2 linked regions of the Homo sapiens genome follow. The protein of the gene in region 1 interacts with the protein of each later gene in a pairwise test. Each region holds a gene or a part of one and is shown on either strand. Other genes may lie near its edges.

Region 1 (6,905 bases):
TTTTACAAATTAAAATGCTGCATTCACCTGATAATAAAAATCAAGTAGAGGCTGGGTGCAGTGGCTCACGCCTGTAATCCCAGCACTTTGGGAAGCTGAGGCGGGTGAATCACCTGAGGTTGGGAGTTCGACACCAGCCTGACCAACATGGTGAAACCCCGTCTCTTCCAAAAATACAAAAATTAGCCTGGCATGGTGGTGGGTGCCTGTAATCCCAGCTACTCAGGAGGCTGAGACAGGAGAATCGCTTGAACCCGGGAGGCAGAGGTTGCAGTGGGCTGAGATCACACCATTGCGCTCCAGCCTGAGTGATGAGAGTGAAACTCCATCTTAAAAAAAAATAGGCCGGGCGCGGTGGCTTATGCCTGTAATCCCAGCACTTTGGGAGGCCAGGGCGGGTGGATCACGAGATCAAGAGTTTGAGACCAGCCTGGCCAACATGGTGAAACCCTGTCTCTACTAAAAATGCAAAAATTAGCCAGGCATGGTGGTGCACGCCTGTAATCCCAGCTACTTAGGAGGCTGAGGCAGGAGAATCACTTGAACCTGGGAGGGAGAGGTTGCAGTGAGCCAAGATTGTGCCACTGTACTCCAGCCTGGGTGACAGAGCGAGACTCCGTCTCAAAAAAAAAAAAAAAAAAAAAAAAAAAAGTGAAAATTGTGGGCATTTGCAGTCTTTGCTGCCATTAAGTCTTCTGGATTTTTCTACAGGTTGACTCTAAAAGTTGAAATCCAGTCAAAGATATTTACATTATTATGGCCACATGAACGTTGTTTACCCTCAGGCCAAACAATGGGCTGGAATTACACTTGCTTCTCCACACACTCCATCCCATAATCCATGTGTCACTCAAAGGACAATGTGGCAAGCAAGCACTAAGGCCCTAAATTGATACTGTATCAATTAAATACAATTATGTTGTGTTATAGCTTGTGTTTCATTTATTTTATTTTATTTTTTATTTTTATTTTTCTGAGAGATGAACTCTCACTCTGTCGCCCAGGCTGGAGTGCAGTGGCACAATCTCGCCTCACTGCGACCTCTGCCTCCCAGGTTCAAGTGATTCTCCTGCCTCAGCCTCTCGAGTAGCTGGGATTACAGGCGTGCGCCACCATGCCCGGCTAATTTTTGTATTTTTAGTAGAGACAGGGTTTCACCATGTTGGCCAGGCTGGTCTCAAACTCTTGATCTCGTGATCCACCTGCCTTGGCCTCCCAAAGTGCTGGGATTACAGGCATGAGCCACTGCGCCCGGCCTATTTATTTTATTTCAAGCAGTTCTCCTGCCTCAGCTTCCCAAGTAGCTGGAACTTCAGGCGTGCACCACCATGCCCAGCTAATTTTTGTATTTTTTAGTAGAGATGGTGTTTCACTACATGTTGGCCAGGCTGGTCTCGAACTCCTGACCTCAGGTGATCCACCCACCTTGGCCTCCCAAAGTGCTGGGATTACAGGCATGAGCCACTGTGCCCGGCCTATTTATTTTATTTTTTATAGAGACAGGGTCTCACTCTGCTGCCGAGGCTTCGGTTCAATGGGGTGATCATAGCTCACTGCAACCTCAAACTCCTGGGATCAAGTGATCCTCCTGACTTAGCCTCCACAGTAGCTGGGACTACAGGAGCATGCCATCGCACCTGGATAATTTTTCTTGTATTTTTTGTAGAGATGGAAAGGGGTTCTCACTATTTTGCCCAGGCTGGTCTTGAACTCCTGGCCTCAAGAGATCCTCTCGTCTCAACCTCTCAAAGCTCTAGGGTTACAGGCGTGAGCCATGATGCCCTGCCCGTATTTATTTATTTTTATTTTATTATTTATTTATTATCTTTTTTTTTTTTTGAGACAGGGTCTTCCTCTGCAGCCCAAGCTGGAGTTCAGTGCCCAGATCATAGCTCATGGCAACCTGGAATTCCTGGGCTCAAGCGATCCTCCTGCCTCAGTTTCCCCAGTAGCTGGGACTACAGGTGCACACCATGATGCCCAGCCTGTTTTGTTGCTTTTTTTTTTTTTTTTTTTTTTTTTTTTGAGATGGAGTCTTGCTCTGTCGCCCAGGCTGGAGTGCAGTCATGCGATCTCGGCTCATTGCAACCTCCACCTCCCGGGTTCAAGCAATTCTCTGCCTCAGCCTCCCGAGTAGCTGAGATTACAGGTGCCCGCCACCGTGCCCAGCTAATTTTTGTTTTTTTAGTAGAGACAGGGTTTCACCATCTTGGCCAGGCTAGTCTTGAACTCCTGACCTTGTGATCCACCGACCTTGGCCTCCCAAAGTGCTGGGATTACAGGCGTGAGCCACCACAACTGGCCCCAGCTGTTTCTTATTTACATTGTGATTTCAGTTTTGAAAATTTTCTGGAGATTCTAACTGCTTTTCTTTCTTTGCATACTCTTTTTTTTTTTTTTTTTTTTGACAGGGTCTTACTCTGTTGCTCGTGTTGGAATGCAGTGGTGTGATCACAGCTCACTGCAGCCTCAACCTCCCAGGCTCAGGTGATCCTCCCATCTCAACCTCCTGAGTAGCTGGGACTACAGGCATGCACCACCATGCCCAGCTCTATGGATGCTTTTTCTTGACTCTCTTTAAGTATATTAGGTAGTACTCTTTGTATCCTGAATTATCTCTGTTTCCTCCAATGTCAAATTTTGTTTGTTAATTTTGGTCTTTCTTTCTTTTTTTTTTTTTTTGAGATAGGGTCTTGCTGTGTTGCCCAGGCTGGAGTGTGGTGGCGTGATCTCAGCTCTCTGCAACCTCTGTCTCCTGGGTTCAAGCAATTCTCTGCCTCAGCTTCCCGAGTAGCTGGGAACTACAGGCGCCTGCCACCACGTCCGGCTAATTTTTTTGTATTTTTATTAGAGACAGGGTTTCACCATCTTGGCCAGGCAGGTCTCGATCTCCTGACCTCGTGATCCACCCGCCTCAGCCTCCCAAAGTGCTGCGATTACAGGCGTGAACCATCGCGCCCAGCCAATTTTGGTCCTTCCTTCCTTCCTTCCTTCCTTCCTTCCTTCCTTCCTTCCTTCCCTCCTTCCCTCCCTCCCTCCCTCCCTCCTTTCTTTCTTTCTTCCTTTCTTTCTTTCTTTTTGAGACAAGGTCTGTTGCCCAGGCTGGAGTGTAGTGGTGCAATCACAGCTCACTGCAGCCTCAAACTCCTGGGCTCAAACAATCCTCCTACCTCGGCCTCCTGAGTAGCTGGGACTACAGGCGTGGGCTAATTTTTTAAAACTTTTCTGTAGAGATGGGGTCTTGCTCTTGCCCAGGCTGATCTTGAACTCCTGGCCCCCAGCCTTGGCCTTCTGGGATTACAGGCGTAAGCCACCTGCCGGACCAATTTTGGTGTTTCTTTTGCATGCTGCTGGTCCTCCTCAGATGCTTGGCAATCATTGGTAATGATGGGCTTCAGAACGTGCTACCGGCACAGTGAGTGTTTTAAGCTGAAGGAATTTGAGAAAACCGCAGAAGCCGAAGGATCTTTCTTACCTTCTCCTGCCCTTCTTCCCTGAACCAGGTCATACAACCTGGAACTCCCTGCCCTTTTCCTGAAGAAGCAAATAACAGCCTCCTGCGAGAGGCGCCCTCCCTGCACCTGGGGGAAAGGAGGGTCCTTATCTCTGAAGACACAGGGACACAGAAGAATCTGAACCAACAGGCCTTCCTGAGTTCCCCACCTCCCCGCAGGAGGTGCCCGCACACGCATAGCCCCGTCGCTCCCGCGGCCGCACGCAACGGACCTCGCCCTGGTGGTGCACGCCCGGGCTGGGCGCTCAGAGGTCGGGTGGGCGCCCACTCCGTTCGCTGCGCGCACAGCGCCCGGCGAGAGGCTCGGAGTTTGATCACACACAGCGTCCGGCTTCCTGTCCCCAGCGCCCCCTCCCGCCCCGTTTCCCTTGCCCCTCCCTCTCCCCGGCCCGATCCGCCCGCCGGCTCCCCCTCCCCCGATCCCTCGGGTCCCGGGATGGGGGGGCGGTGAGGCAGGCACAGCCCCCCGCCCCCATGGCCGCCCGTCGGAGCCAGAGGCGGAGGGGGCGCCGGGGGGAGCCGGGCACCGCCCTGCTGGTCCCGCTCGCGCTGGGCCTGGGCCTGGCGCTGGCCTGCCTCGGCCTCCTGCTGGCCGTGGTCAGTTTGGGGAGCCGGGCATCGCTGTCCGCCCAGGTGAGGCCCCGCTGCGCACCCCTTCTTGGGCACATCAGGAGCTGAGACTGCAGAGGGGCCGCTGGGGGCCGCGTGGGCTGAAGGCAAGGGGAAGGGAGGATGGGTGGAGGGTGAGATGTCAGGTGGAGCGGCACAGGGTGACGCTCCCTCCTTCCCAGCAGGAGCCTGCCCAGGAGGAGCTGGTGGCAGAGGAGGACCAGGACCCGTCGGTGAGTGGGCGTGGGCGCGGTCTGCAGGCTGCTGGGGCATGGGAAGTGTGCACAGCCGAGGCTGCAGGTGTGTGCAGCTGTGCCAGCCGTACTCGAGGTGTGTGCAGGGTGTGTGTGAACACAGTGCGTGCATGGGTGCGTGTCTGCAGGGGTGTGTGTGCGTGGTGACAACTCTGTGTGAGGGGTTTGTGCTGGGGTTGTGCCACCTGAGTCTGAGGTGTTTATTGGCTGGGGGTGACGTGGTTGTATAAGATATGTGAGTCTGCGTGGAAGAGGGGTGCGGTTGTGTACAGGGTGTGTATCCTCTGTGCGTGGTGACTGGGTGCGGGCATGTGTGCAATGTGCCAATTGAATGCAGGGTCTGCGTTGGTTGTGTGTGTGGGTGGGAAAGTGTAGCTGGTCTAGAGGAAAGGGTGAGGACTGGGGCCTGACTCCCAGCTTCACCTTTGCCCGGGGCCCCAGCTGTAGTTGGCTGAGGGGCTTAATCTGTCCCTGACTTCTGTGTCTATTGCTGGCTGGTGGCTCTCCTGACAGGCCCCGTATGTCTCACTTTATATCTCTGGGAGTCTGTGGTTGAACCCTGCCCTAATTCCCCTAGGAACTGAATCCCCAGACAGAAGAAAGCCAGGATCCTGCGCCTTTCCTGAACCGACTAGTTCGGCCTCGCAGAAGTGGTGAGCATCCCTCTATCCCAACCTCAGGAAGCGGGCAGAGCAAAAACCATTATCCACAGGGAGAAACTGAGGCACGGAGGGTGAAAGGAGTTCAGAGTCATGCAGCTAACCAGCCAAGACTCAAACCTAGGGATTCTCGCCCTCCTCTGAAGCTCCTTCTGTCATATGGATGTGCTCCTTCAGACCCTACCCCAAACAGGAAGGCAGGGTGGCCATGAGTTAGAAGAACTACTGGGATCCTGATGGAGACTAGGCCTGGCAGTCAGAGGCCTGGGCCCCGGTAGGCAAAGAGACTTAGGAATGGGATGATGGGGTGGCCGGATGACCACGTGTCCAAGTCGGCATGCAGTTGTCCTGGCCCCCACCTGTTATCTCGGTGTGATTAATAGCAGCTTCCCGTTTTGCTCTCAGCAGTATCCCAGTGTGGATGACAAATTATAGTCACTCTACTTACTGAGGAAGATGAGGCCTGAGATTCTAAGGCCAGGAGTCTGGACAAGAATAAGGATGCCAGGGTTCCTGAGAGGGGAATGGGGCTGGGAGAGTTGCTCTGGGACCCCCACTAGGGCCCGCTTTGCTCATCTGTCTTTCCTTGATCCTCAGCACCTAAAGGCCGGAAAACACGGGCTCGAAGAGCGATCGCAGCCCATTATGAAGGTGGGTGATGGGTGAGCCATACCCAGGAGGAGAGGGGCAGGTGGCAGAGGGTCAGGGCAGGTCTCACCAGCCTTTTCCTGTACTTTACAGTTCATCCACGACCTGGACAGGACGGAGCGCAGGCAGGTGAGACCCCATCCCCCGACACAGCACTGGCCTCCTGGGAAAAGGGCCCTTGAAAACCTTTGACCTCCCACTCCCTTCCCGGCCATCAGTCTCAGAACCACAGAAGCCAGTTCATGAAGGTCTTGGTTCTCTCTGTGACCCAGGCGTGGGACCCCATGAAAGACCCCTACTCTTCCCCAGAACTCTGCCCAGTTCCCCCAGCAAATCACTGTCCCAGCTCTCTCCTTCAGCCCTCATTCTTCTCCAAGAAGCACTTTTCATTCTTTTTTCTTCTGTCTCCTCCATATTCCACGTTCTGATGATCTTTTTCTCTAAATGCTGCTAGTGTCTGCTCATCTTTTCCATTTCTACCCCACCCTCTACCTCAGCACCGTGACCTCAGAACCTCAAATCCAGCCTCTTGCTGCTTCCCCACTCCACACCCTCCCTACCCCTCCACTCCATCTGACCTGTGCTGCCATGCTGAGCCCCTAAACTTCACTTTTCTTGTGGTATTGGCTCTCTACATGGCTTCCAGTCTCTTCGTGGTCTGGTCTCAACCTAATTTCCCTGCACTCTTATGCTGTCTTCATGTTTGCTGCGCTGACACCCCTGCTCCCGGTGTGCCTCTTCTGGACTTTGCACATACCATCCCCCTCACCAGAATGTCTTTCCACTGTGAGAGGCAGGGAGGCATGAGGAGTGCTCAGCCGAGGGGTTCACAGCAGAGATGGTGAGAAGTGGATGGGTTCAGCCTGTGTCCTGAAGATATTACTGACTTATGGGTTGGAGGTGAAGAATAAAAGAAAGGGAGGAATCACAGATGACTTCTAGATTTTTTATTTTTTTTAAGACAGTCTCGCTCTGTCACCCAGGCTGGAGTGCAGTGGTGCAATCTCGGCTTACTGCAACCTCTGCCTCCCAGGTTCAAGAGATTCCCGTCTCAGCCTTCCAAGTAGCTGGGATTACAGGCGTGTGCCACCACGCCTGGCTAATTTTTGTATTTTTAGTAGAGATGGGGTTTTGCCATGTTTTCCAGGCTGGTCTCAAACTCTTGACCTCCAGTGATCTGCCCGCCTCGGCCTACCAAAGTGCTGGGATTACAGGCATGAG
Region 2 (5,832 bases), on another chromosome or scaffold:
AACATTTGTTTTACTATTACAATATAGTAGGCATACCATAAATGGTATTTCCCCCCTTACTAAAGAAGTAACAAAAGTCATATATCCAAGAAAAGAAACTACATCTGTGGACTGCCTGTAAAAGTGGCCTTTTTGCTTACAAGTCACTTTTCCCTCTGTAATAGCTTAGGAGATCTGAGGAGGATGAAGAGAAAGAAGAGGATATTGAAGTTCCAAAGGCCATGGGGGATATTTTTGAGTCGCTTGCTGGTGCCATTTACATGGATAGTGGGATGTCACTGGAGACAGTCTGGCAGGTGTACTATCCCATGATGCGGCCACTAATAGGTATTGTTGGCTCCCTTTAGAAAGAAAAAAACCCACAAAATTAAAAACAACTTCAGAGATATTATTCATATTATTCTTTCATTTTGATTGCAGAAAAGTTTTCTGCAAATGTACCCCGTTCCCCTGTGCGAGAATTGCTTGAAATGGAACCAGAAACTGCCAAATTTAGGTAAGCAAAAAATGTACATGGAAAAAACATTAACTTAAAAACATCAAAGGGGAAAAGTTCACAAAGATATTGTAAACTAATGATTCTGAAAAATATTTACACTGTGGTGTGCTGTTGTCAGATTTCTGTTTGTAATCTGATTGACTTCTCTTTTTTCCTTCTGTTTTTATGAAATAATGCTGTAATAAAGACTAGACGGCAGCCCTGTCTGTCGGGGGTATGCAATTGCAGTAAGTCGTAACGCGTGTTTCCTTTGTGTGGTGTCAGCTTATACATGGGACTCCTGGCCTGAGAGTGCACACTAAATGCTGATTGACAATGATAATAAATACTTCTGACTTCTAATTCAAGCTGTTTGGATTTTTTACAGCCCGGCTGAGAGAACTTACGACGGGAAGGTCAGAGTCACTGTGGAAGTAGTAGGAAAGGGGAAATTTAAAGGTGTTGGTCGAAGTTACAGGATTGCCAAATCTGCAGCAGCAAGAAGAGCCCTCCGAAGCCTCAAAGCTAATCAACCTCAGGTTCCCAATAGCTGAAACCGCTTTTTAAAATTCAAAACAAGAAACAAAACAAAAAAAATTAAGGGGAAAATTATTTAAATCGGAAAGGAAGACTTAAAGTTGTTAGTGAGTGGAATGAATTGAAGGCAGAATTTAAAGTTTGGTTGATAACAGGATAGATAACAGAATAAAACATTTAACATATGTATAAAATTTTGGAACTAATTGTAGTTTTAGTTTTTTGCGCAAACACAATCTTATCTTCTTTCCTCACTTCTGCTTTGTTTAAATCACAAGAGTGCTTTAATGATGACATTTAGCAAGTGCTCAAAATAATTGACAGGTTTTGTTTTTTTTTTTTTGAGTTTATGTCAGCTTTGCTTAGTGTTAGAAGGCCATGGAGCTTAAACCTCCAGCAGTCCCTAGGATGATGTAGATTCTTCTCCATCTCTCCGTGTGTGCAGTAGTGCCAGTCCTGCAGTAGTTGATAAGCTGAATAGAAAGATAAGGTTTTCGAGAGGAGAAGTGCGCCAATGTTGTCTTTTCTTTCCACGTTATACTGTGTAAGGTGATGTTCCCGGTCGCTGTTGCACCTGATAGTAAGGGACAGATTTTTAATGAACATTGGCTGGCATGTTGGTGAATCACATTTTAGTTTTCTGATGCCACATAGTCTTGCATAAAAAAGGGTTCTTGCCTTAAAAGTGAAACCTTCATGGATAGTCTTTAATCTCTGATCTTTTTGGAACAAACTGTTTTACATTCCTTTCATTTTATTATGCATTAGACGTTGAGACAGCGTGATACTTACAACTCACTAGTATAGTTGTAACTTATTACAGGATCATACTAAAATTTCTGTCATATGTATACTGAAGACATTTTAAAAACCAGAATATGTAGTCTACGGATATTTTTTATCATAAAAATGATCTTTGGCTAAACACCCCATTTTACTAAAGTCCTCCTGCCAGGTAGTTCCCACTGATGGAAATGTTTATGGCAAATAATTTTGCCTTCTAGGCTGTTGCTCTAACAAAATAAACCTTAGACATATCACACCTAAAATATGCTGCAGATTTTATAATTGATTGGTTACTTATTTAAGAAGCAAAACACAGCACCTTTACCCTTAGTCTCCTCACATAAATTTCTTACTATACTTTTCATAATGTTGCATGCATATTTCACCTACCAAAGCTGTGCTGTTAATGCCGTGAAAGTTTAACGTTTGCGATAAACTGCCGTAATTTTGATACATCTGTGATTTAGGTCATTAATTTAGATAAACTAGCTCATTATTTCCATCTTTGGAAAAGGAAAAAAAAAAAAACTTCTTTAGGCATTTGCCTAAGTTTCTTTAATTAGACTTGTAGGCACTCTTCACTTAAATACCTCAGTTCTTCTTTTCTTTTGCATGCATTTTTCCCCTGTTTGGTGCTATGTTTATGTATTATGCTTGAAATTTTAATTTTTTTTTTTTTGCACTGTAACTATAATACCTCTTAATTTACCTTTTTAAAAGCTGTGGGTCAGTCTTGCACTCCCATCAACATACCAGTAGAGGTTTGCTGCAATTTGCCCCGTTAATTATGCTTGAAGTTTAAGAAAGCTGAGCAGAGGTGTCTCATATTTCCCAGCACATGATTCTGAACTTGATGCTTCGTGGAATGCTGCATTTATATGTAAGTGACATTTGAATACTGTCCTTCCTGCTTTATCTGCATCATCCACCCACAGAGAAATGCCTCTGTGCGAGTGCACCGACAGAAAACTGTCAGCTCTGCTTTCTAAGGAACCCTGAGTGAGGGGGGTATTAAGCTTCTCCAGTGTTTTTTGTTGTCTCCAATCTTAAACTTAAATTGAGATCTAAATTATTAAACGAGTTTTTGAGCAAATTAGGTGACTTGTTTTAAAAATATTTAATTCCGATTTGGAACCTTAGATGTCTATTTGATTTTTTAAAAAACCTTAATGTAAGATATGACCAGTTAAAACAAAGCAATTCTTGAATTATATAACTGTAAAAGTGTGCAGTTAACAAGGCTGGATGTGAATTTTATTCTGAGGGTGATTTGTGATCAAGTTTAATCACAAATCTCTTAATATTTATAAACTACCTGATGCCAGGAGCTTAGGGCTTTGCATTGTGTCTAATACATTGATCCCAGTGTTACGGGATTCTCTTGATTCCTGGCACCAAAATCAGATTGTTTTCACAGTTATGATTCCCAGTGGGAGAAAAATGCCTCAATATATTTGTAACCTTAAGAAGAGTATTTTTTTGTTAATACTAAGATGTTCAAACTTAGACATGATTAGGTCATACATTCTCAGGGGTTCAAATTTCCTTCTACCATTCAAATGTTTTATCAACAGCAAACTTCAGCCGTTTCACTTTTTGTTGGAGAAAAATAGTAGATTTTAATTTGACTCACAGTTTGAAGCATTCTGTGATCCCCTGGTTACTGAGTTAAAAAATAAAAAAGTACGAGTTAGACATATGAAATGGTTATGAACGCTTTTGTGCTGCTGATTTTTAATGCTGTAAAGTTTTCCTGTGTTTAGCTTGTTGAAATGTTTTGCATCTGTCAATTAAGGAAAAAAAAAATCACTCTATGTTGCCCCACTTTAGAGCCCTGTGTGCCACCCTGTGTTCCTGTGATTGCAATGTGAGACCGAATGTAATATGGAAAACCTACCAGTGGGGTGTGGTTGTGCCCTGAGCACGTGTGTAAAGGACTGGGGAGGCGTGTCTTGAAAAAGCAACTGCAGAAATTCCTTATGATGATTGTGTGCAAGTTAGTTAACATGAACCTTCATTTGTAAATTTTTTAAAATTTCTTTTATAATATGCTTTCCGCAGTCCTAACTATGCTGCGTTTTATAATAGCTTTTTCCCTTCTGTTCTGTTCATGTAGCACAGATAAGCATTGCACTTGGTACCATGCTTTACCTCATTTCAAGAAAATATGCTTAACAGAGAGGAAAAAAATGTGGTTTGGCCTTGCTGCTGTTTTGATTTATGGAATTTGAAAAAGATAATTATAATGCCTGCAATGTGTCATATACTCGCACAACTTAAATAGGTCATTTTTGTCTGTGGCATTTTTACTGTTTGTGAAAGTATGAAACAGATTTGTTAACTGAACTCTTAATTATGTTTTTAAAATGTTTGTTATATTTCTTTTCTTTTTTCTTTTATATTACGTGAAGTGATGAAATTTAGAATGACCTCTAACACTCCTGTAATTGTCTTTTAAAATACTGATATTTTTATTTGTTAATAATACTTTGCCCTCAGAAAGATTCTGATACCCTGCCTTGACAACATGAAACTTGAGGCTGCTTTGGTTCATGAATCCAGGTGTTCCCCCGGCAGTCGGCTTCTTCAGTCGCTCCCTGGAGGCAGGTGGGCACTGCAGAGGATCACTGGAATCCAGATCGAGCGCAGTTCATGCACAAGGCCCCGTTGATTTAAAATATTGGATCTTGCTCTGTTAGGGTGTCTAATCCCTTTACACAAGATTGAAGCCACCAAACTGAGACCTTGATACCTTTTTTTAACTGCATCTGAAATTATGTTAAGAGTCTTTAACCCATTTGCATTATCTGCAGAAGAGAAACTCATGTCATGTTTATTACCTATATGGTTGTTTTAATTACATTTGAATAATTATATTTTTCCAACCACTGATTACTTTTCAGGAATTTAATTATTTCCAGATAAATTTCTTTATTTTATATTGTACATGAAAAGTTTTAAAGATATGTTTAAGACCAAGACTATTAAAATGATTTTTAAAGTTGTTGGAGACGCCAATAGCAATATCTAGGAAATTTGCATTGAGACCATTGTATTTTCCACTAGCAGTGAAAATGATTTTTCACAACTAACTTGTAAATATATTTTAATCATTACTTCTTTTTTTCTAGTCCATTTTTATTTGGACATCAACCACAGACAATTTAAATTTTATAGATGCACTAAGAATTCACTGCAGCAGCAGGTTACATAGCAAAAATGCAAAGGTGAACAGGAAGTAAATTTCTGGCTTTTCTGCTGTAAATAGTGAAGGAAAATTACTAAAATCAAGTAAAACTAATGCATATTATTTGATTGACAATAAAATATTTACCATCACATGCTGCAGCTGTTTTTTAAGGAACATGATGTCATTCATTCATACAGTAATCATGCTGCAGAAATTTGCAGTCTGCACCTTATGGATCACAATTACCTTTAGTTGTTTTTTTTGTAATAATTGTAGCCAAGTAAATCTCCAATAAAGTTATCGTCTGTTCACTTTGTGTCCTTTCATCTTTTTTCAATTCAAGTGGGTAATAACGTTTAAATAGTGGTAGCAGAAATGATCTTTATAATGTTTCAATTCCATGGTGAATCATATGAAAATGCATATTTTAATATAAAATTTTGTTTACCAAGTTCTGCTTCATGTCCACCTGTAGAATTATATAGTAACAACTGTCTTTTTTGAAGACTTAATTCCAATCTGCTTTTTGGAAATTCTGTCACATTGATTGATGCATTCTAGGTCTTGGATTATTTAGATGATGTGTTTGACACATTCTTGAGGTGAACTTGGCTTTTCTAAAAGCAGGTGGACAGAATGTTCAGCTTCCAGGTTTTTAGGACACATTTCCAATATTGTTGATTAAGAAATAATTCTATCATTTTAGCCTTTTGACCCAACTTTTTTTGTAACTCAGTAAACCAAGCACTAATATGAATCATTTGGTTGTAGAAACAAGATGGTAAGAAGTTTTTTAGAATGAGAAAAAAGTTTAGTTTTCCTTTGTAGGTTTAAATTAGTC

What was found. Proteins that work in one complex are often made in the same cells at the same time.
Region 2: the proteins of TNFSF12-TNFSF13 (region 1) and DICER1 interact in binary tests that used the Homo sapiens proteins (3 or more experiments, as listed by UniProt).

Annotation. Positions count from the first base shown.
Region 1 is NC_000017.11:7,545,166-7,552,070, forward strand, and holds the start of TNFSF12-TNFSF13 (TNFSF12-TNFSF13 protein), read left to right. Parts: upstream 1-3,892; 5' UTR 3,893-3,988; coding exon 3,989-4,147; intron 4,148-4,308; coding exon 4,309-4,356; intron 4,357-4,954; coding exon 4,955-5,030; intron 5,031-5,633; coding exon 5,634-5,687; intron 5,688-5,777; coding exon 5,778-5,813; intron 5,814-6,905. Other genes in the region: TNFSF12 (tumor necrosis factor ligand superfamily member 12 proprotein), read left to right, coding at 3,989-4,147, 4,309-4,356, 4,955-5,030, 5,634-5,687, 5,778-5,813. UniProt on the Homo sapiens protein: Binds to FN14 and possibly also to TNRFSF12/APO3. Weak inducer of apoptosis in some cell types. Mediates NF-kappa-B activation. Promotes angiogenesis and the proliferation of endothelial cells. Also involved in induction of inflammatory cytokines.
Region 2 is NC_000014.9:95,085,698-95,091,529, reverse strand, and holds the end of DICER1 (endoribonuclease Dicer), read left to right. Parts: intron 1-164; coding exon 165-327; intron 328-420; coding exon 421-496; intron 497-866; coding exon 867-1,032; 3' UTR 1,033-5,302; downstream 5,303-5,832. UniProt on the Homo sapiens protein: Double-stranded RNA (dsRNA) endoribonuclease playing a central role in short dsRNA-mediated post-transcriptional gene silencing.